5 separate regions of the Homo sapiens genome follow, and regions 1, 2, 4 and 5 are each linked to region 3. Evidence: fine-mapped expression QTL. A gene starts in region 3. Each other region holds a variant in brackets. All regions are shown on one strand. Distances are from middle to middle. Region 1 overlaps CDH23 (cadherin related 23). Region 2 overlaps CDH23 (cadherin related 23). Region 3 holds the start of CDH23 (cadherin related 23). Region 4 holds the start of LOC105378356 (a long non-coding RNA gene). Region 5 overlaps CDH23 (cadherin related 23).

What was found. PIP is the estimated chance that this variant, and not a neighbour inherited with it, causes the effect.
Region 1: its variant is the best candidate, but not a certain one, in a credible set for the expression of CDH23 in monocytes after LPS (Fairfax 2014, PIP 0.59).
Region 2: its variant is the best candidate, but not a certain one, in a credible set for the expression of CDH23 in whole blood (TOPMed, PIP 0.57).
Region 4: its variant is the best candidate, but not a certain one, in a credible set for the expression of CDH23 in thyroid (GTEx, PIP 0.88).
Region 5: its variant is the best candidate, but not a certain one, in a credible set for the expression of CDH23 in whole blood (GTEx, PIP 0.57).

Annotation. Positions count from the first base shown.
Region 1 is chr10:71,599,278-71,603,277 of GRCh38, reverse strand. All of the region lies in intron 9 of CDH23 (cadherin related 23), which reads right to left. Among named protein-coding and RNA genes, the nearest start is that of CDH23-AS1, 89 kb to the right of the region's middle. The variant T/G (reference allele first, on the strand shown) is at 1,906.
Region 2 is chr10:71,629,502-71,633,501 of GRCh38, reverse strand. The region is part of intron 11 of CDH23 (cadherin related 23); the gene reads right to left. Among named protein-coding and RNA genes, the nearest start is that of C10orf105, 88 kb to the left of the region's middle. RefSeq lists enhancers at 1-330, 2,225-3,055. The variant C/T (reference allele first, on the strand shown) is at 1,528.
Region 3 is chr10:71,393,449-71,399,762 of GRCh38, reverse strand. CDH23 (cadherin related 23) reads right to left here and starts at 2,843. Exons shown (of 70, transcript NM_022124.6): 1 at 2,445-2,843. RefSeq lists an enhancer at 2,040-2,551 and a silencer at 3,235-3,324.
Region 4 is chr10:71,471,829-71,475,828 of GRCh38, reverse strand. All of the region lies in intron 3 of CDH23 (cadherin related 23), which reads right to left. It overlaps LOC105378356 (a long non-coding RNA gene), which reads left to right and starts at 1,775. Exons shown (of 3, transcript XR_946055.3): 1 at 1,775-1,929; 2 at 2,213-2,417; 3 at 2,540-2,951. The variant C/G (reference allele first, on the strand shown) is at 2,191.
Region 5 is chr10:71,780,570-71,784,569 of GRCh38, reverse strand. It overlaps CDH23 (cadherin related 23), which reads right to left. Exons shown (of 70, transcript NM_022124.6): 42 at 150-283. Among named protein-coding and RNA genes, the nearest start is that of MIR7152, 8.2 kb to the left of the region's middle. The variant A/C (reference allele first, on the strand shown) is at 1,777.

The DNA of each region.
Region 1 (4,000 bases), 200 kb before region 3:
TGGGAGAGACACTTAAGAAAACAAAGAGGACGGTGATCAGACGCCCAAGGAGAAGAAAGCCCATGGCAGGAGGAGGGGGCACGCGCTGTCTGTCATCCTGGACGTGTTGTCACCCCCTCCTCTGGCTCCAATCCAGCAATGGGACATGGGAAAGATGGGCCCAGGGATGAAGCTTCTCGGGAAGTGGGGACACCAGAGACCACCTATCTACCACTGGGCCTGTCCGTACCAGGTATGGGGTGGGTCATACCCCCAGGGAGCCCACCGTCTAATGGGGAAGATTGGTCATCTTCGGGGAAGGACAAGGCACATGTATGAGGAAGCCGACTGGAGAACTCATAAAGGAGTGGATGTGAATTTAAGAGACTGGTTTCATCATTTGGGGCTTGTGGACATTCTGAGATTCAGTTTCCTCTTTGGAGGTGAGAATACCTTCCCCTCTCACAGGGCTGTTTAGAGGTTCAGTGAGATAAGGAATCTGAAGATGCTTTACAAACTGTAAAGTGCTGAACCCATGTCAGGATGCGTCAAAGATGGTGAACTGGGTGCCTGGGGCAGGTGGAGCTGTGCAGTGCCACAGACTGGATGACGTTAAGCAGGAAAGATGGGCAGAGCGGGGCAGGGTGGGGTGCAATGGCAGTGACAGGTGCACCCTGAAGTTTGTGGGACAAAGAGGGTTGGTGCCCCTGAAACTTCCCTCCAAATCCTACTGCCCAGGGTCCAGCCTCCCCCTCCAACTGCCATCTGTTCAGTCCTTTGTCTTGCATCACTGAGATCATGTGGAAGCAGTGTGGGCCTCAGAGGGTACTGAGTTCAAATCCTAGCTCCACTACTTCTAGCTATGTGGCTTTGGGCAAGTGACTTTGCCTTTGAGCCTCAGTTTCCTCACTTGCCAAAGAGGGACACTGACAGACTCTGCCTCCTGGGGCTGCTGGGAGAACAGAGCTGGTACAGAGCGGCTCTCACTGATTGTCCGAGCCCTCTCCATCTTCCCTGCCATCTTTCCTCCATGAACACTAATCCTGACAGTGCCACGGCTGCCCCTGCCCTCCCGCCCCAAGTGCTGCAAGTTCCAGAGTGAATGACTTTCAAATCTGTGGAAGGAGAACCCATCACACACACCTTGAGCCGGGTAATTTATGAATCAAATTGTGCTCCGTCAGGACTCTGCAGCCCAGAAATAGATGTGGTCGGACGAGGTTCAGGGAGCCAGCCTCAGACACAGTTATCTTCATAGAAACTGGCCACCAGCTGGCTGAACCAGCCCGAATGACCGACCTTGAGGGGTCCCCTGGGGGCTGCAGAGCCCCCCCCCCTCCGCCGCCCACCCAGCCCAGGCCCTGCTCCAATGCCTGAAGGGAGAACAGAGATCTGCCTGGGGCTCAGAAGACAGCTGTGACCCTGGGCCAGTCACTTCACTTCTCTGGGCCTCAGGGTTTTCTCCTGTTTAAAAAAGAGGGGGCTTTTCCATGGCAGTGGTTTTTCAAATGTCTTTGTTTCAGTAGCAGATTCTTGTATCAGACAAAATTTCACACAGAGCTCCAGTATAGAAAACAGCCAAAATCAGAGCTAGTTGCCCTGGCTGAAGCAGATGACGGGGTGTGGAGTCCAGCACACCCAGCACCCCGTTACCCTCCAAGGGGGCCCTGAGGGATGGGGTTCAGGGAATCTGGAGATTCCCAGGACGTTTTCAGTTTTAAGATGCCATGGGAGATCTGATCTTTTTGAAAGGGCAGATATTGCAGTGGCTAGGACCAGGGTTCGAACCTCAGCATTACTTCTCACTAGCTGTGTGACCGTGGGCAAGTTATCTACCCTCTCTGGGCTTGCGTTTCTTTAACCATAAAAAGGGGAGGAGTAATTCTTATCTTATAGGGCTGATGTGAGGATAAAAGCAGGTAATAA[T/G]CCTACTTAGTTCAGCACAGTGTCCAGCACATCACAGATGCTCAACAAATGTTAGACCTCATTGATTAGTAAACTGAGGATAGAGGTGAAAAAGTCATAAGGCTTGTAAGTGGTCGCACTGAGATTTGAAGCCATGGCCTTTAATGCCAATGCCTATATTCCTTCTCCTACTCCTCCCTAGAAACAATGCTTCTAGAAGGCTCCACCAGAAAGGATGCAGATTGTGCCAGGCCCAGTTTCCTAATGTTGGAGGGTTTTCCGGCATTTGGTCAGTGACTCAGAGTATAACATCAAAGCAGATGATTCTGGTCAGGGCATGACTGAAGGAAAAAAACTACAGATTTGGTTAAGCACAAACCCACTCAGCAATGTGGAAAACATCAAACATCTTGGGTTCGAGTGAGTATGAGTCAGAGTCATCATATTTATGAGAAAAGATGGCAAATTTGTCCTACAGAGTCAGAGCCCCCAGTCTGAAAACAGAAAGGCCAGGGTTTCCCCAGGAACTCTGATACCATGGGGTATAGGAAAGGTCAACTTTTAAAAGCTCTGTGGTCTGCCGGGCATGGTGGCTCAAGCCTGTAATCCCAGCACTTTGGGAGGCCGAGGCGTGTGGATCACAAGGTCAGGAGATCGAGACCATTGCGGCTAACACGGTGAAATCTTGTCTCGACTGAAAATACAAAAAATTAGCTGGGCGTGGTGGTGCGTGTCCGTAGTCCCAGCTACTCAGGAGGCTGAGGCAGGAGAATCGCTTGAACCCGGGAGGCAGAGGTTGCAGTGAGCTGAGATAGTGCCACTGCACTCCAGCCTGGTGACAGAGTGACACTCCGTCTCAAAAAAAAAAAAAAAAAAAAAGTTCTGCGGTCAAACAAATCTGGGAAATGCTCAACAGACATCTTCACTGCTGGACTTGTCAGAGCCTTTAATGTGCTCATGGGCATTGTGATTTGCCAGCACAAGGAAATTGTGATGCAGTGTCTCTCTAACTTATTTGACCACAGAGCCCTTTTTGCAAAGCTTATCTCCTAAAGCATCAGTGGGCCAACCCACTGAAGAAATTGAAGGTGTGGCCGGGTACGGTCGCTCACGCCTGTAATCCCAGCACTTTGGGAGGCCAAGGCAGGTGGATCAACTGAGGTCAGGAGTTTGAGACCAGCCTGGCCAACATGGTAAAACCCTGTCTCTACTAAAAGTACAAAATTAGCCGGGTGTAGTAGCACACATCTGTAATTTTAGCTGCTCGGGAGGCTGAGGCAGGAGATTTGCTTGAACCTGGGAGGCGGAGGTTGCAGTAAGCCGAGATCGCATCATTGCACTCCAGCCTGGGCAACAAGAGTGAAACTCTGTCTCACCAAAAAAAAAAAAAAAAAAAAAAAAAAGGAAAGACATTGAAGGTGTAAATGGGACTATTCCCACAGTTTCCCTCCAGTGGAGTCTCTGAGCATACAAGTTAGATGTGTCAAGTGTCAGAGGTGGAAAATGGAAAGATGCTTAAAGCCTAGCAGGTTCCAACTTTTCCTTCATCCCCTGGAGAAGTGAGAATCAGAGATGAGAAGTAACTTGGTCAACAACACACAGCACGTTAGAAGCAGAACTGGCACCAGATGGGTGGACCAGAAGTCTGGCTCAAGTCTGGACTCCTGTCCAGGCCACAGGTCAGATGTGGCTCTCTGGTCTGCTTTGAGAAGCTTTGGGGACCACACATAAAAGTTTTACTATGGAAAATTTCAAAGAAACACAAATGTAGAGACAAGAGCACAATGAAGCTCTCGGTACCATCACCCAGATGCAACAATCATCAAAATTTTGCCAATCTTATCTTAAAATCACCCCCCACAACACTACCAATTTTTCACGGTGTTAACAGAGGAAATCCCAGTTCATCTTTACATACTGTATGCATCTCTCATAAGGACTTTCAAAAATGCAACAAAACATGCCATTTTCACCCTAAATAAAATAAATGATTCCTCAATGTCACCTAAGACACAGTCCACATTCAAGTCAGGGATGCCATTTTTGAAGCCAACGTCAGGATCAGAGGTTTTTACCTTTTCTGCTCAGCGCTCACAGAACAGGCCTCTGAGATGAT
Region 2 (4,000 bases), 230 kb before region 3:
ACTCAGCTGCCCCCAGGCAGGGCTGCTCAGGCATGCAAAGGGCTCCTCCTACTTGACATATTCCCTATCTTTGGGGCGTGGGGCGTGTATGTGTATTGGCCGCATAGTTGCTATGGGTGAATGGACGAAGGGATAAAGGCATGAATGAATGAGTTGCATGTGTTTATCTGCTGTGCATGTGTGAGTGTGAGAAAAAAAATCAGAAGATAGAGACAGACACAGAGAAGGAAGGATGGTGCTAGGGTTTGAATGTCCCCCTCCAAAATTCACGTTGAAATTTAATCCTCAGTGGCAGTATTGAGAGGTGGGGCCTTTAAGAGGTGATTGGATCGTGAGGGCTCTGCACCCATGAATGGACTAATCCATTCATGGATTAGTGGATTAATGGGTTAATGGATTAATGGGTTATCCTGGGAGGGGGACTAGAGGCTTTATAAGAGGAAGAGAGACCTGAGCTACTGCATGAGCACACGTAGTAATCTCATCATGCGAGATGCCCTGCACCACCCCGTGACTCTGCAGAGAGCCCCCACCAGCAAGAGGGCCCTCACCAGATGCAGCCCCCTGACCTTGGACTTCTCAGCCTCCATAGCTGTAAGAAATAAATTTTGTTTCTTAAGTTACTCAGTTTCAGTTATTCTGTTATAAGCAACACAAAATGGACTAAGACACGTGGGAAGGCAGGTGAGAGACAGAGAGACAGGGAGAGAGGATCAGATTCAAAGACAGATTAACAGAGGGAAAGAGAGGGCATGCAAAGGTGGTGGAGGGTGTTCAGGTGAGGAGCTATACTGAGGTAAAGATGGAACCTGGCCGCTGCACAGCAGGGTGGTGGCAGATGGTGGCAGCTCCCATCTTTTTCTCCATCTAGCCCCTCCCCCAGCCTGCCCTTTTGAGCTTCTGTCACTCCCATTGCTGGAACTCTAAACTGCAGCCTCATCTCAACCTCTGCCTTTCCTATAGACCCCACATCTAAGCAGTCCTGACCCCTCGTCCAGTCCCCACCCACCGGTGCTCTCTGTCATTGCCCACTGGTACCACCCCCATTCTCCATGTGTCTAGATTAATCAACCTAAAGCATAGCTCTGAGTACATCACTTATGCTCAAGGACCATCTATGGCTCCCAATTGCCTGCTGAATTAGATTGAATCTCACAGCGGTGTTCAAGGCCCTCTAACTGGCCTTTCTAGCTGTATAGGAGGGTGCAAATTACGCACTTGCTGATTTAATGACGGTGGAGAGAAGGATGGGGCTATCTTAGTCTAGAAGCCCACCAGTGCTGCTGCTCATGCTGGTGCCTCTCACTTCATCCTTTTTGGGGGATGGGTGTGGGGGTATTCCATAATTTATAGTTTATTTTCTTAATTAACATGTTGTAAAGTTGACTTTTTTTGGTATATAGTTCTATGAATTTTAACACATGCAAAGATTCTTGTTACCTATCCCCTCCAACCAGGATACAGAACAGTCCCACTGCCCCCAGCACTTCTTTGTCCCGTCTCTTTACAGGGACTCCTCTCCCACCC[C/T]CAGCCACCTCTGACCTGTTCTCTGTTCCTATAAGTTTGTCTTTTTTGAGAATGTCATGGAATTATGCAGCACAGGGCAATAGCGAGTGGCTTCTTTCAGCACAATGCCTTTGAGATTCCTCTGATTCTCAATTCCCTTTGGTGATCTATTTATTTAAGCACAGTCTGTCCCTGTAGGACTATTTAGCATATCTGAGTGATCTGCAGAGCTAGGGAGGGGACCTCTGGCATCCCTCTTAGAAGGGTGGCCCCCTGGTGTGCAAGAGGAGGGCTCTGGAGGCAGGAGAGAGAAAAGGGCCAAGAGGATTAAGAAAAGAAAAACAAATCCTGGTAGACCTGCTCTGTAAATGTTAGCAGGTTTGGACATTCCCTAATGAGGGCTATCACAACAAGGCATCATGCCAAAAACAGAAATGGACTAAGATATGCGTGTTAATTTGCCACTACTGAAAGACATTAGGGCTGCCTCCAAGTCTTCTGAGTCCTGCCTCTGTTCCTGCACACTCCACTCCCTCCTTCGCCTCAATCTTCCTCCTGTCATCAGTGCTCCCTCTTGCTCCTCTTCCCCTTCCCTTGGGGGTGGCTCCTCAGTCATCCTCATCTCCCCTAAAGTGAAGCATCAGGGTGTCCTGGGGCTGCCCAGTCCCCAGTCTCCTTTCTGCTCTATCCACATCCCTTTCCCAAGTGAACCCAGCTAGAGCGGTGGCTTTATTTATTCATTTGTTTTAGGTAGAGTTGGGGTCTTGCTCTGTTGCCCAGGCTGGAGTGCAGTGGTGTGATCACAGTTCACTGCAGCCTAAATCTCCGGGCTGAAGCGATCCTGCTGCCTCAGCTCCCCAGCAGCTAGGACTACAAGTGTGCGCCACCATGCCTAGCTAATTTTGAATTTTTTTGTAGAGATGGGGGTCTCAGTATGTTGCCCAGGCTGGTCTCAAACTCCTGGGCTCACATAATCCTCCTGCCTTGGCCTCCCAAAGTGCTGGGATTACAGGTGTGGGCCGCCATGCCGGCCACCGGTGGCTTTAAATACAATCTGGGTGTTGGCAACACTTTCATTCCCGCCTCCAGCCTGGATCCACATGGTGGTAGATGGGGTTCTAGAGGCTCCTGAGAGCCAATGGTTGGATTTCTAGAATCTGGGAGAGCCAGCTGAGGCCACGCCAGTAGCTTGAGATCGGCCATCGAGGAGCATTGACACCACAGAGATTACTAAATGCTATGAGGCAGCCCCTCACCGAGGCCCTGGAGCTGCTCGCTAGGTATCTACCAGCACAGCCCATGTGCCTTCTTGGCGTCTCCATCTGGGTGTCTAACAAGCATGTCAAACGTAACACGCTGGAAGCTAACCTACGGATTCCATCATGCCCTCACTGAATCGACTGCTTTACCGTATCAGGAAGTAAGAACTCCATTTTTCTAACTGCTCAGGCCAAAAACCTTGTGCAGTCACTCTTAACTCCCTTCCTCCCCTCCCCATATTGGCAAATCCCATTGACTCTCCCTTCAAAACAGATCCAGCGGCTGACCGCTCCTCACCCTCCACAGGCCCCATCTGAATGACGGCAGTCACTCCTAGGAAAGGCCCCTGCCCCTCAGGGTCAATTCACCCACCCCCACCCCTGGCAGACACAGCATCCTTTAAAAAAATTTTTAGGTTGAGTGCGATGACTCACGCCAGTAATCCCAGCACTTTGGGAGGCCAAGGCAGGATGATCTTATGAGGCCAGGGGTTTGAGACCAGCTTAGGCAATGTAGTGAGGCCCCATCTCTACAAAAAGTTTAAAAATTAGCTAGGCACAGTGGCATGTGCCTGTAGTCCCAGCTACTGGGGAGGCTGGGGTGGGAGGATCACTTGAGCCCAGGAGTTCGAGGCTGCAGTGAGTTATAATTACACCACTGCACTCCAGCCTGAGTGACAGAGTGATACGTTGTCTCAAAATAAAAAATAATAATAAAATAAATGTTTAAAAAATGGAGATACAATTCATATAACATAAAGGTCATCATTTTAACCATTTGAGAGCGAACAATTCAGCATTTTTCCTACATTCACTGGGTTGTACAACCACTACTCCCTCTATCTAGCTCCAAAACATTTTTGTGTCCCCCACAAATGAAGCTTTGTGCCCATTAAGCATCACTCCCCATTTCTCTCCCCCAACCCTTGGCAACCACTAATCTGCTTCCCGTGTCTGTGGATTTGCCTCTTCTGGATGTTTCCCACACGTGAAATCATCCACCAAGTGGCCTTTTGTGTTTCCCAGGGCTATGCCTGCTGTAGCAGCTCAGTGCTTCATTCACTCCTGCAATGGCTGAATAATGGCCCACCGCATGAAGGCATCACATTCAGTTTCTCCATTCGGCAGCGGATGTACAGAAGTTGGGTGTCTTCCACTGCACCTCCTCCCGAAACTTCACTCCTGTCACATCACTGCCTGCCTGCTTCCCTTAGGCGGCTTGCCATCTCATTCCT
Region 3 (6,314 bases):
ATTATATTGCCCAGCCTGGAGTACAGTGGCTATTCACAAGCACGGTCCTAGCACACTACAGCCTTGAACTCCTGGGCTCTAGCAATCCTGTTGCCTCAGCCTCCCCATTAGCTGGGACTATAGGAGTTCACCACTGCACCCAGTTCCATGTACAGTTTTGACTGCACACAAAGCTGAGATGTTATTCTAATCTATTTAAAAAACCCTAAAACACAAACACTCTTGTGGCATTAGCATGGTACAACCCGAAGGGGCCAGTGGTGGACTATTAATCCGAGCCTAGCAAAACTGGCCAAAGAGAGAAGCTCCAATCTCATTCTCATCTCTGTGTTCTTATCCACTGCCCTATACAACACTCTGCACCAAGGAACTATGCAATGCCTCTTAGAGAAGGCACTGTGGACCACAGCTCAAACTTTACTGAGCACATGAGTCACCCAAGGATCTTACCAAATGCAGATTCTGATTCAGAAGGTCTGGGGTGGGGCCCAAGAGTCTGCATTTCTAACAAGTCCCCAGGTGATGCCGACGCTGCATGTCCACAGGCCACACTCTGAGGAGCAAGGTTCCGCTACACCTTCACCTCCCAGAAGAATGTGCATTTTAAATGAGCACTTCAGGAAGGTGCCCTTTAAAATACTTGGCTCAAATAAATGAACCTCAAATGGTGAAACTGCAGGTAAGGTAGCTTGTTGAGTGGGGGAGCTATTCCAGAGGCAACCAGGACCATCTGCTATCACAACCCTCAAATCAAGCCCTTTGGTAAGCAGACGTGAGGAGCCCAGCTGTTTAGAGGTGAGGAAGGCCAAGTCTGAGAAGTATATGCGGACCCAGCACAGACGGGGCCAGGATGCTAGCTCTGGGCCTCCCACCCCTCACTGCTGTCCTCCAGCACTCGAGGCAGAGCTTCCTGGTTCACACCAGTGGCTTCTGTGTGCCACCTTCCCAACTCACGGGGGACACCCACCCTCTACCACGAGACACTCTGCCTTCCTGCCCTCCCCAGCCCTGGCAGCCAGAACCAAGCCTTGCTATTCCCCCAGGCAAGGGGCCCCTTCCCAGCTCCTCCTTGGCAGAGTAACATCTAGTGCCCCCACCCCTGTAGGTGCTGACCGCAGTGCGCCTACCCCTGCACCACGAACCAAGCACTAACTCCAAGCCAGCTCTCCCCATCGTGGGCTGACTCATCATCACCATGCAACTGGCCCCAACTAGGTTCTTAAAGCCCGCCCCACCCCACACCCCACAACCTAATTCTTCCCTGTGTGAGGGTCTGACTCCACCCAACACACACACACACACACACACACACACACACACACACACACACACACTCCTGTGTCTCTCTAGCTTATTTCAAAATCCAAATTAGGGTTGGGGCACTTCCCAAGGGGCTGGAAGGCGAGGTCAATGTCAATGCCAGCTCTGGTCTGAGAGGGCAAAGGACGTAGAAAAAGAAGGCTCTGCTTTCTGAATTACTAGGGAGGATGGGGGAGTATTACTACCGAGGAAAGGCTAATTTCCTCCCAGTGGACCGCTGACAGCACTAGGGCTGGGGCTGGGGTCGCAGTGGGGCGGCGGCTGGCATCGGATCTCCGCTCACAGCACGGAGGCAGCCTCTCTAGGTGCCCGCTCCGAGAAAGCCAGGCAGAGTCCCCGCCGGCTGGCGCCGTCACTGCCTTGGAACACGCGGGCTCTGCTCGAGTCCTGGGCTGACCTACGGTGGAGATGAGGGGCAGTGCTCCCGGGTGCCAGCTCCTGGGGGCAGCCAGCACCGCTCGTAGCGGACCAGTTCCAGGGCCAGGAAGGCGAAGCGAGAGCCGCAAAAGGCTCCCGGCTCCTCGAGGGGCGCGTCTTCCCATAGCTGGACCGAATTTGGGAGGATGTGTAAGTCCCCTGGGGTCTCCCGCGGGCACAGGGACTTGATGAGGGGAGGGGAGAACTACGTGCCTTTAGTTCCCCTCAGCGCCTCTGCCCAGCCCGCAGTAGGGGTGCGCCCCACCCCATCCCCACTGTCCAAATGGGGACCCAGGGCTCAGAAGGGGAGGGGATTGGATCCCAACGCGCTCCACTCTCGAAAATCTCTCCACCCCAGACCTGGACCCTCTCCGTAGCGCCGAGAGCAAAGCCCCCAAATGTTCGCGGTCCCAGGACCGGGGATGGGGGATGGGATGCCTGTCCTCCCAAGGCCAACGCGAATGGAATTCGAGTTCCCAGGAATCAAAGTTGCCGCGCGTCGGGGAGCTCGGAGCGGGGCGCGAGGCTAGGGCCAGGGGCCTGGGACCGAAGGATGCCGCGAGCGCCCGCCACGGGCGATGGCCGCGCTGGGAACAAGTGGTTCGGCAGCCGCGGTCACCACCAACTTCCCCGCCGCGCGGCGGGCGAACGGCGAGGGGAAGGAGAGGGAAGCGAGGAGGGAAGAGGCGGTGCGTGGCTCCGGGTACCGTGTGCGTGTGTGCAGCGGCGCCGCGCCTCGCCTCGCCTCGGGCTCTGCTCTCCGCCGGATCGGCCCCCGCGGGCCGCCTGCTCTGGCCCTGGCCACCGCCGCGTCTTCCCGCCGGCGCGAAGGCTCATCCGCGGCGTGCCGGCAGCTCCTGGGTCTCCGCGGGCCGCTCGCCGCTCGCCGCTCGCCGCTCGCAACTTCAGGCGCGCCGGGGGCTCGGACTGGGCGCGCCCCAAACGTCCAGAGGCTCTGCCACCCCGCGCTCCATGCCCAGGCCGGGCTGACTAGCCCCGACCACCTCAGCGTCCGGCCGCCGTCGGACGCGTCCTCTAGCCAAGCATCGCGCCTGCAGCCCGCGTCCCTCTCTCCCGAGCCGCCGCCGCCGCTCAAGTCCGCGATCAACTTTCCCTTGCTTCCCCCGCCCCGCTCGGCCCCCGCCCCGCTCGGCCCCCGCCGTCCAGACCCCGCCTCCCGCAGCTCCCTCCCTCACCTCCCGCCTCGCCCGGCCCCCGCCCGCCCGCCCGCGCTCGGCGCTCCCCCACCCCTCAGGCCGCCAGGACCCCCGAGCTCCCGCCCGGCCCCGCCCGGACCCCCGGGAGCGGCGCCGAGCCCCGCCGGGCGCTCAGGGCATGAATATTTCAGTGCTGGCGAAGCTGCCCTCTGCCGATGTCATGGCACCGGCTGCTGTGGCAACTCTACGAATCCCCCAAAGGGGCAGGGAGGAAGCCCGCGGAAGAGGCCCCAGGTGCGAGACAGAGCAGTGCCCCGCCAGGCCGCCAGCCGTCCCGCAGAGGGGCGCGCAGGGGGATGGGGCCCCCAGCGTCTCGTCCGCCCCGCGCCTCAGGCAGAGCGAGGTAACGCTCCCGGGAAGCCCGGGCGGGCGAGCGGGCGCTCGGCCTAGGTGAGCCCGCGCCATCTGTTGGCTTTAAGCGCCCCCTCTCTGCTCCCAGAGTCGCTGAGCAGTCCCTCTAGTCCTTGGGGCCTCTTGGCCTACGCTTCTCTCCAACCAGCTGCCTTTGCCCACCCGACTCGTGCGCTCCCATCTGCGCCTCCTCCCTCACTAGAGCTCAAGAGGCCTCCAAGTGCTTAGAAATGGAGGACCCCGGGTTGGAGGAGACCCGTGAGGTCACTTAGGCGCCCTCACCCCTGCGGGAGCTCCGTCTGCAGTGCCCGAGTCATGGTCTCCCGGCTCCTTTTTGCACACCTATAGGGACAGAGACTTTATGGCTTTCTGAGACAGCTGGATCAAGAAAGGGTCCATATGCAGGTAATGGAAGAGGTTTATCCCCTACCTTTGATCTTTACTTCCCCGGGGCTAAGCATTCTGATTTTTTAAAACTATTTCTCACATGACAGGATTTCCGAGCTGTCACTGTTCCAGTCAGTACATTGACAGTACCTGCCTGGAGCCAGGCTCTGGGCTGAGACTTTCTGGGCCTCAACTCATTCTATCTTCAATAAAGTCTTTCTGGTGGGCCCTGCCATTATCCCAGTTTTACAGTGAGAAACAGGCTTTAGGAGGTTGGGGACTTGCCCCTGTGGTGGAGTCGGGTATTGAACCCAGAATCTATCTGGTTCCAAAGCTCCAGTTCCTTACCATTCGCTCATTCATTATTCATTCATTCATTCACAGTCACTGCTATGTGCTAGCTAACTGAAATAGTTTCTAGGAATAGGATGGAGAACAAAACAGGCTTGGTCTTTGTGCCCCATGAAGCTTCTCTAGTAGGGGAACCAGACATTCATCAATGAAACACATAAGCAGGTAAAATTACAGCCAGAATCAGTGCTAGGAAGAAGAGTGCTTTAATGGCGCCTGGCCGAGGGGATCAGGGAAGACCTCCTAGAGGAGGTGACTGAGCTGAAGGATGAGCAAGGGAGAGAGAGTGGAGTTTTAGGCAGGAGAAACAGCATGTGCAAAGGCCCCAGGTGCCCACTGCAGGCAACGGCTGGGCCAGGAACAATGGTTTGGTGACCGCAGTCGCAATCAACTTGTGCAAAGGTGGGAAGGAGCTGGCATATGTCAGGAAGTCCAGAAAGGGTGGGGAGAGCTCCGTGCCTCCAGCGTACGAGGAAACGCTCCTGGGAAGCTTGGGAGGGTGAGTGAGCCTGCACCATCTGTTGGCTTTAAGCACCCCCTCTCTGATCCGAGTCACTGAGTGGTCCCTCTAGTCCTTGGCAGTGACTGTAAAGCCACAATGGAGTGGGGGCCAGACTGTGCAGGTGTGTTGGCCTTAATCAGGAGTTGATCTTTATCCTAAGACTGAAAGCTTCAGAGGCCGGGCTTGGTGGCTGACACCTATAATGGCAGCATTTTGGGAGGCTGAGGCAGTAGGATCACTAAGACTCTATCTAAAAAAAAATAAGAGAGAGAGAGAATTGATTGGGAGGCAACAGTTGATGAGAAGAGACTGCTTCAATTAAAAGTATTTATTTGTCAAATACTATGTGCCAAGAAATTTTCTAGACCAGGGGTGAGCACACCGCTACCCAGAGGTCAAATCTGCCTCATCACATGTTTTTGTAAAGAAAGTTTTAGTGGCACACAGACATGGCCTGTTTGGTTGTGTCTCCTTTCACACTACAACTACAGACATAAGGAATTTCAAGAGGGACCGCATGGCCTGCAAAAACAAGAAATATTTACAGCCTGGCCCTTTACAGAAAACGTTAGTTAACCCCTGTGAATTTAGACACTTTGGATATGTCAATGAACAACACACACAAGCACACACACACAGGCACACACACATGCACACAGACACGCATGCTTGCGCCAAACAAATCCTTGCCCTGGTGAAGCTTACATGTCCTCAGGCTGCTGCAGTGTCTAGGTGATTGGTGACAGAGGCCTGGAATGAGGGGGTGGGTAGAAGTGGAGAGAAGTGACTTTCAGGAGGTAAAAATCTACAGGGCCAGGAGGACAGGGAGTGGTTATACGTGAGATAGAGCAAAGGGTCAAGGAGACTTCTGGGTTTCTGGCTTGTGGTGGTAGATGGACAGTGTGCTGTTTCCTGTGATGGGGCCCTCTGAGGAGGCCACTATGGAGACCTGAGCAAGAGCTCCCTTGGGACATGTTGTGTGAGAGGCCTGTGCAGTCACAGAACAGAGATGCCAAGTAGGCTCTTGGACAAATGAACTGGAGTCGTGGTCCTACATGTCTTAGGTGGTCATGCTTTTACACAGTGTGATGGAGCCAGGAGTCCGGAGAGCGGGATCTGAGTTCTAGGTCACCCTCTAGCTGGATGGTAGCGGGCTGGACACTGGACCTCTCTTGGCCTTGTGTTCCCCATTCGTAAAATGAAAGCATGAGAAGAGGTGTTCTTCAAGGTTCTCCACCCCTCAAACCTTCTGTTACACACTGTGCCAAGCACCGTGCTGGGAACTGGGGTGTCAGTTGGGATGCAGCCAGCCCACAGAACCACCGTGAGTGTGTAACAGACAGGGAATGGAAGGGCTGAGAATTCTAACTGGATGGCGAGGCGACCCAGAGTGCAGCAACAGCAGAAAGTGTGCCACCCCTAGACTGGAGGGATAAGGGAGGAAGCAGAGTGACCAGGATCAGGGCACACGGTGGAAGGTGAGACCACAGTGGGCCTGTGTGGTGTGGGCTCGAGTCACAGAAACACAGCTACTGCCAGAGACGGTGGAGTGTGAAGACACATCCCGGCTTCTTTCCCCAGCCCTCTCGTCTCCCACCTGAAGACAGTGGACCTGGGAGTTTGCGGGGTCAGCCTGCTGTGATGCAGAGCAGCACCACAGAGGGGAGGAGAGAATGGCCCTGAGGGGAACAGGCCAGCACCGCACACCGGGGACACAGATGTGAGTGACATCCATCCTGTCTTCAAGGCACTCCCAGTGGGAGAGAGGG
Region 4 (4,000 bases), 77 kb before region 3:
CAGGCATGGAACTGGGGCCTGCTCCCTGCCTTCCAGCCTCCGCCCCTCAGGGCCTGCATTCCAGCTATTGGCTGCAATCCCCAACCCTGTCACTGGCCAGATCCTCCCTACCTTTTCCTTCATACCCCTGCCTCCCAGCCTGCCATCCCTGCTCAGGCAAAGCCAGCAGGGGACGGGGACCCCTCGGGTGACAGATGGGCCTCACACTGTTTTCAATTGTCACGCGGGCATACAGGATGACAGACCTTGGGAACCGGGCATTAATACCGAAGATTTATAGTCAAATCTGTCACGCCTGAAGGCTCTTCCCCCAAAGTTGGCTCAGCCTGAAGGTCGCTTTTCAGAGGTGATAAGTGCAAAAAAGCTGTCCTCAACCGCCCTCCTAGACCCTCCCCTCTCGGGAGCCAAGAGCTCAGGCTGCACACAGGAAACAGAAAGGGAAGCAGGAACAGGAACTCCAAACCAGAGAGTCTAAGACCATCCCCCAAGTGCTTTCTCTCTTCCTACCCCGCCCTCCCCACTGTGATGCTCACACTTGGGAGGTCCCAGCAGGCTGGAGAGGTCAGGGACGCTCCTGGGCAGCTCCTGCGGATGTCGTGTGTCTGAGGGCTAAGCCAGGTGAATGCCTCCCTGTGCTGGTGGTGAGAAGAGAGCCACACTGGCCCAGAAAAGCAGCCCTGCACTAAGGTTACACAGCTCTGACCAGCAGCTACTCTCAGTCCCCATCTGAGAACTGGAAGGCACCCTGCAGGGCCTGGAGGGGCAAATAGTCACCATTCCCGTCTTCCTAGTGAGAGGCAGAAGCCAGCATCCATCCACTCACCAAATTCTTACTTGAAGTCATCAAGGGTCTTGAATGAAAGAGATGAGAGCAGTCTTAGACATTGACCAAGCCAATGGCCCCATTTTACAGATGGGGAAACTAAGGCTCAGAAAGAAGTAAGAATCCAGGTTTATTCATTCATTCAACAGTTACTTGGCATGCGCTGGGGGCTCGGCCTGCTAGCCGGGGCTCTTGACCTGCTGTCTGCTCTGAGCACAACCCCTGTCTGTGCTGAGCACACAGAGGAGCGCAAGGACAAGTAAGTTCTCTTAAGAAGGAAAGACTACCAGAAGATGCATGTGGACCTGTGAAACACAATGGGAAAGTTAAAAGCAACGATCGTGGCAATGCACTGGCTCATCTCACCCACCCCGTGCCCCTAATGAGCAATATGTTATTTTCTCCATTTTACCAGAGAGGAAACTGAGGCACAGGTCTAACAGCTGCTAGTTGCCAGAATGCAAGGCCCACCTTCTGAGCACCGTATTCCACTGTCTCCCAGGAGAAGGCAACATGGCAAACGCTGTTTGCTGCCAAATGTTTGACCAGTGAGAGCTCTACTAAGTGGGGAAAGGTCTCTGTGGGCTAAGGTGGTCTCTGAAGGCTTCCTGAAGGAGGCGACAGAGGCATTAGAACTGACAGAGCCAAAGCCTCAGCAGGGATGGTACCCTAATAAAAAGGAAGCCTCCCAGACTGAACCTCCTGTTTCAAACTTACTCCTGGAGCTGATTGGCACATACTCTGACCCCTTCCTTAGGGATTTTCCCTTTGGCCCCACCCTGAGGGCTCCCTGGAGGTGAAGGCCACTGGACCCTCTGCAGAACAAGCTGGCCCTGGTGGCATGTGGGAACAGGCTGTACTGGCAGCTGGTGCCTCTGGCATTGTGGAGAGGAGGTGGGGGAGGGAGCGGGCACCAACATCCTGGACTCTGGAGCCTGGCATGAGAGCAGTGCCATTCCTAGGTTATAGATGAGCTAAATTAGCTGTGACGCTCATTAGCGGCAGCTCCTAATTAGTGAAAATTAATATTGGCTTTGATAAAGACGTCGGCGCCAGCTCTCCAAGGCAGAGGCATTATCATCCTTGTCAGCTGGGCTAACGACTGGGTAAGTGGAGGAGCCAGGGGGCCTGGGAGTGGGCAACAGGTCCCTGGGGAGGGAGCTTGATGCTCACAGGGGCCAGCTGTGGGCACCCCTGCCCACTGCTCACCTGACCCTCTAGTAGCCATACTGCAAGGGCCTGGCCCCACGTCTAGAGCTGCAGCTACAATCATCATCCATAATATTGTTGGGTTCTTCTGTGCCCCAGGCAGTGTAGCAAATGTTTTCACATGTATTTGATGATCCCAAGAATGTTGGAAGTAAGTA[C/G]TTTTTTATCTCCATTTTACAGACGAGAAAAATTGAGGCTCAGAGAGGTTGAGGAACTTGCCCTGGGACCTCTGGATACCAGGATTTGGGCCCAGGCAGCCTGACTCAAGAGCCATGATCCTGACTTTGGTATTATCCTGCCCTTCCCTTCAACCTCACCCCCAAAAGGGGCACTCTGGATGCCAGCCCCATCGTATACCAGCACGTAACATCATATCCGGCACACAGTAGGTGATCAGCAAATACTTATGAATGAACACACAGGTGCACAGAGGGCCCTTGGTATTCCTCCATGGCATTTATATTGACTTTTTATGTCTTCCTTCTCCATCCACTTGATGCTGTGGAGAACCTGTACTTCCATTTACAGCCCCTGAGTAAGTCCAGGACAAAGTCTCCAGGCTCTGTATTCCAGAACACCGCCTCTCCAGTAGGGAAGACTCCGGGAGCATCCTGCCTTCCCAGGCGGGAATGGAGGCCAGGAGGCTTTGCCCAGACCTTGACTGTGCTATTGCCAAGTGACCAGCTCTGGGGCCTGGCTCCTCTGCCACTTGGGAGAGGACTCGGCAGATGGGCTTCCCTTCACCCCAGTCCCTGCTCCCCAGCCAGAGACCCTGAGTTCCAGCCCAGGGTAATGAGGGGAAGTAACAGATACACCTACTTTTAATCCAAATAAAGGAAAAATGTTTGCCACCATGGAGTTTATAAAAATAACAATGCATTATTCGGGTATTAATAACAATAAAGATGTCAAACTGTCAGATAAGAAGTTAATCTCATTCCGAGCACAATTAAAGATGCTATTTTCCCACCACCTGGGACCACACTGGAGTCTACCACTCAGCAGGCTTAATAGATAAAGGGCCATGCACAGAGCACAGGAGTCCTTGGCACTGCCAACCTGCCCTCCCACCACTTGCTGCCACCTCCAGACCCCTCCCTTGGCAACCCCAGCACAAGGGCTCAGGCCTCGCTTCGCTGTGGAGTATCTGGCAGGACCTTCAAGGCCAAAGGGCGAGGGCAGAGCAAGTTGAAGCCTGGCCCATGTGCCTGCCATTCACCCAGGCATTTCCTGGACAAGTGAATGCTGGGCCAGCACTGTACAAGCAGAGGGGACAGTCCCTGGCAGCTGGGCTGAGTGAGGGTCCAACCAGAAAGAAGGAGACACTGTTAGAGCTGCGAAGAGAGGGGATTTAACGTGGGGAATCGGTCACACGGGTGATAGAGGAGCCAAGAGGCCAAACAGGGCGGTGTGGTGACCCAGACAGAGGCCCAGCAGAAAGCCACACTGCCAGCCCTTTGCGGGAGGGACAAGGGAGGAGGTGGTGTTAACAGGAGCCAAGAGACACAAACTTTGGAGCTACCACCCGAGGAGAGAAGGAAAGAAACACCCTGGCTCCTCCCTTCCTCCCACCATCCAGTCTCCTGCCAGGGCCTCCTGTTGGCTAAACCCAGGCAGAAGCCAGCTGATCTGGGAGCCTGAGGAAGGCAGCCCATGGGGTCAGCTCCCCGCCACTCGGAGCAGGGCTGGAGGTGGCCAAGAATGGAGCTGAGGACAAACAAGCTCGGGACTGGCCCAGGTCCAGCCCTGAAACTGAATCACCTATCATCTGTCGAGCACCAGATCCATTCCAGGCACACCTGTAGATGTGGGGGACAAAAATACAAATTAGAAGTCACATTGACTCTCAAAGCAATTACCACCTATTGGGGGAAATAAGCATATAAACAGATGGTTTCCACGTAGGATGTGTGTACATGCTAAGCTGTATTACAGGCCATGAGTACAGAGGAAAGATCCCAAGGATGG
Region 5 (4,000 bases), 390 kb before region 3:
GTCTATTAAGGGCCCCAGGGGCAGGCCTGGCCTGGCTCCAGGGCAGCCTGTGGCCTCTCTTGGCACAAGGGTAACAATGTTTACAAGAATCTCTGTGGCAAGTACAGGGGCAGCGAGGTGAAGCCAGCGGGTGGGGCCCCCAGACTCACTGTGGAGCTGAGTGGGGGCATCCCCCGGTCACGGGCACAGATGGTCAGGTTGTAGAAGGCGATGGTCTCCCGGTCCAGCTCCACGTCCTTCCGGACCCTTAGCACCCCCTCCACAGGAGAGATCACAAACTCCCCTGGGTGTCACCAGGAGAGGCCCAAGTTAGTCGGGCATTGGCAGGAACTGTGGAGACCCCAGGACTCCTTCTGCTTCCTCTAGCAAGCCTCACTCGTCACAGGTGGGGGACAGCTGGGGCCCGGGTCCTCCAGTGACCCCAGCTTCAGATCCTCATGAGATCTGCAAGGGCTGGGATGTGCAGGTGGGTGGTAGCGGATCACCACCACGGGTGCAGGCGGACACGGGCCACTCATGCCCTCATGTGCCAGACCAAGCAGCTTCCTTCCCTGGGCCACAGGCAGGCCAGAGACTGACCTGGGTAAGATGGCTATGTTGAAAAAGTGGGGGCTTCTTGCTACACTAGCACCCACTGTCTAAGCACTCTTGATCAATGAAGGCATCAGGTGCTTCGCAATGTACGATCCATCCCACATGCCATGGCTTGTAAAAAAGGATATTGGGAAGGGCAGAGCTGACCACAAAGCAATGCTTTGCTAATGGTGAATGCGCAGGCACCGGGCAGGCAGAAGGGGACGGATGAGGGGCAGGGAAGCCCCCAGTGCCCTCTATTTAGTCCCCATATTGAGCTATAGTTGGAAAGCAGAGTGGGTTCCCTACACCTGTGGTGACCCTGATTTCCTTTCCTTGATGTTTCTGAAGAGCCCCGCTGGCCCTGTGGCCCCAGAATCCTTTTCTTGGCTGGGCTGCAGGGCCCGATGTCTGACAGTCCAGAGCAAGAACCTCAGATTCTCAGATGCTGACCTGGAAGGCAGCCCAGAGACCGTCCAGTCCCTTGTGTCCTTTGGAGAATGAACTGGGAGCCCAGGGGAGGGTTACCACTTGTCTGCACTCCTGCAGCAAGTGAATGACAGACCAGGATTCAAACCCAGCACTCTGGGTCTTAACCCATTGCCTCGCACAGGACTTGTGTTCTTTCCAGACAGCACCACTCAGAGCTGACCGGGGCGGGGTGAGAACACGGAGGGTGGAGAGAAGAGACAGGGGGAAGGAAACCAGTGAGCAAGCGTGAGCCCAGCTGGAGAGGCAAGAATGGTGGGGGCTGTGGCTCTGGCAGGAAGAAAGTTGAGGGGATGTGAGCTAGGGAACTGGGAGAGCCTGCAGAAGAGAGGCCACCTCTCCGCATTCCCCCAGGAAATGGAATGGAGAGAAGGTTAGTTACCTCCTTCACTTTCCCTTTGAATACTTAGGGGGAAGGGCCCAGAATGGGGCACTGACTTGCTCTGGGACAGACAGCAGGAAGCACACAGCTCACAGGGCATGGCAAGGACAGGGGCCCAGGCGCCCCCACAGTTTTCTCTGCCTGTCTCTTCACATCCTACCTCACAATTCCCTGTCCCCAGCTCCTAACACTCTGATGTACAAAAACAGCCCCTCTCAGTCCCACCTGCAGCTGGGATTTCCCACCAGCCCTTCCGCTCCCAGGCTCTTCCCGTCCCATAGGCTTCACCCTGCCTGGGGGGTGGAAGCTGCTTAAAGCAGGATTTCCTGAGC[A/C]TGACACCCCAAGGTCTCCAAAGAACTGGGGATTCCCTTTCTAGGTGTTTCCCAGCCCTGTCTCAAGCCCCGGCCATATGCAGGCAGAGGGCCTCTTGCTCTCCTTCCAAAGCCAGGAGGAGACACCAGCACCACTCCCTTGAAGGCTCAGGGAGGCAGGCCTGAGGGGCTGGGGGCTGGGCCAGCCTAGTTCCCCTGTGCAAATTCTTCTCCTTGGCAGCTTGCTCTGGGGCCAGACTTCCCCATCCCTCCACAACTCCTGGAGACAGGAGGTTAAAAGCCTAGGCTTTCGTCCAATCATATCTAGGTCTGCATCTGGACTTCATGCCTGTGTGCCCTTGGGCATGTTAAGGAGCCTTGCCTTGATGTTCTCATCTGAAAAATGGGCTAATAGAGAGATGCCACCTTGGGGTTGTGCTGATGCTGGACAAACCCTGGCCCACCTTGTGTGTGCTGATCCCGAAAGGGAGCCCAGGCAGGCCTCTGAAGGAACGGGGAGCTTTCAGGGAGGGTGAGGATGTAGGAAAGGGGTCCAAGGAATGGGTGTGACCAGAAAGGGCAGCTGAGAAGGCAGGCGCTGGCGGGAGAGGCTCAAGTGCATGTGGCCTGTCTCCCAGCTCTTCTTTGAGCACACAGCTCCTCCTAAGGGCTCAGTGGGGCTGGTAAGTGCTCAGAAATCTGGCATCTGTCTCCCTATAGAAAGCAGCCTTCCAGCCTCAGGCTGCAGTGTTGGGAAGGTGACCTTTAAGCTGGGGTCCCAGGCACGTCCCTCCATGCAGTGGTGCACTGTGAAACCAGCTCTCTCCAGACAGCGGTGCTGGCTGTAGCATCCGTCAACCCTTCAGTGACCAACATGAACCCCGAGGTGGGAGGAGATGTGGGAAATGGATGTCGTGACCCATGTCAGCAGTACCATCAGGCCTTCCTCACCTCTCTGGGCCTTCATTGATCATTTCTGAGATGCGGGTGGCGCTCAGAGACCCCAAAGTTATCTTTGGGCTCTAAATGTCTACTCTTCCTTCCTTGGGGGAGGAAGCCTCCCACCCAGGTCAGCCTTAGGAAACTCCTAGGCGTCTCTCACTCCTTTGAGAGCCTGCCTGTTAGTCTGCTGGGACTCCCCCACAAGGCCCCAAATTCTTAAGGCTCATCCCAATCACGTGTGGATTGAACCCAGGAAGTTTCGCTTGTGGCTTAAAGGCCATGGCATGGAGGTCTGCACTGTGCTGGAGCACAGGTGTGTGCTCTGTGCCTTGAGGCTGGGGTGCAGAGTGGGCCCCTCATGGGGAGGGGCTTCAGCTGCTCACCCAGCACCTGCCTCTCCACCAGGTGCCGGCATCCTCCTGTGCTCCAGGGACTCCCATAAAATTACAAAATCTCTGTGTTTGTGAAAACAGCAGAAGAGAAAGGCCCTTGCTCTGCTGGTTTCCAAAGAGGAAGGCCTAGTGCTTGGCCAGAGAGGAGACTTTGGGATCCGAAAGGGTAGCATGTCCGAACAGAGTGACCCCTCATAAGCTCTGGGCAGCAGGGGCTCTCATTCTGTCACTTGGGCCCTCCATATATAGGTTGTTGTTTTTTCCCCCAGCCTCTTAATTGCAAGCGAGGCTTGGGTTCACTGTTGAATCTTCGCACCGCTCTTTGTTTCCTGGATTTAAATACCTCTATGCTGACAACTCCCAAATACCCGTCTCCAGCCCAGACCTCTCTCCTGAACTCTTGGCTTGTATACGCAACCTCTACCTGGTATCTCGAACCGACCCTCCTTTCCCTCCACAACCTCCTGCTGCAGCCCTCCATCCGTCAATGGCAACGCCATCATCTTTTGGGTTGCTCACGCCAAAACCTTGACTTTCTCTCACATCCCACAGCCAATCAGTTAGCACATCCTACTGGCTCCACCTCTGAATTACACCAGAGGTGGCCACCTCTTTCCCTTTGGTGGTGATGCCACCACCCTCTCCCGGCTACCTCATTCTAGCCTGAGTGATTGCAGCAGGTTCCCATCCGACTTCCCTGCTCCTTTTCCTTCACCCCTACAGTCTGTTCTGATCACAGGAACCAGAGTGGTCCTGCTGAAACCTAAGTCAAATAATGTCTCTCCTCTGCTTAAAGCCCTCTTAGGGTTCCCACCTCAGAGCAAAAGCCACGCCCTCATGATGCCCCTCAAGGCCCGACAACATCTGGCCCCATTACCTCTCTGGTCTCATTTCTTCCTATGCTTCCCTTT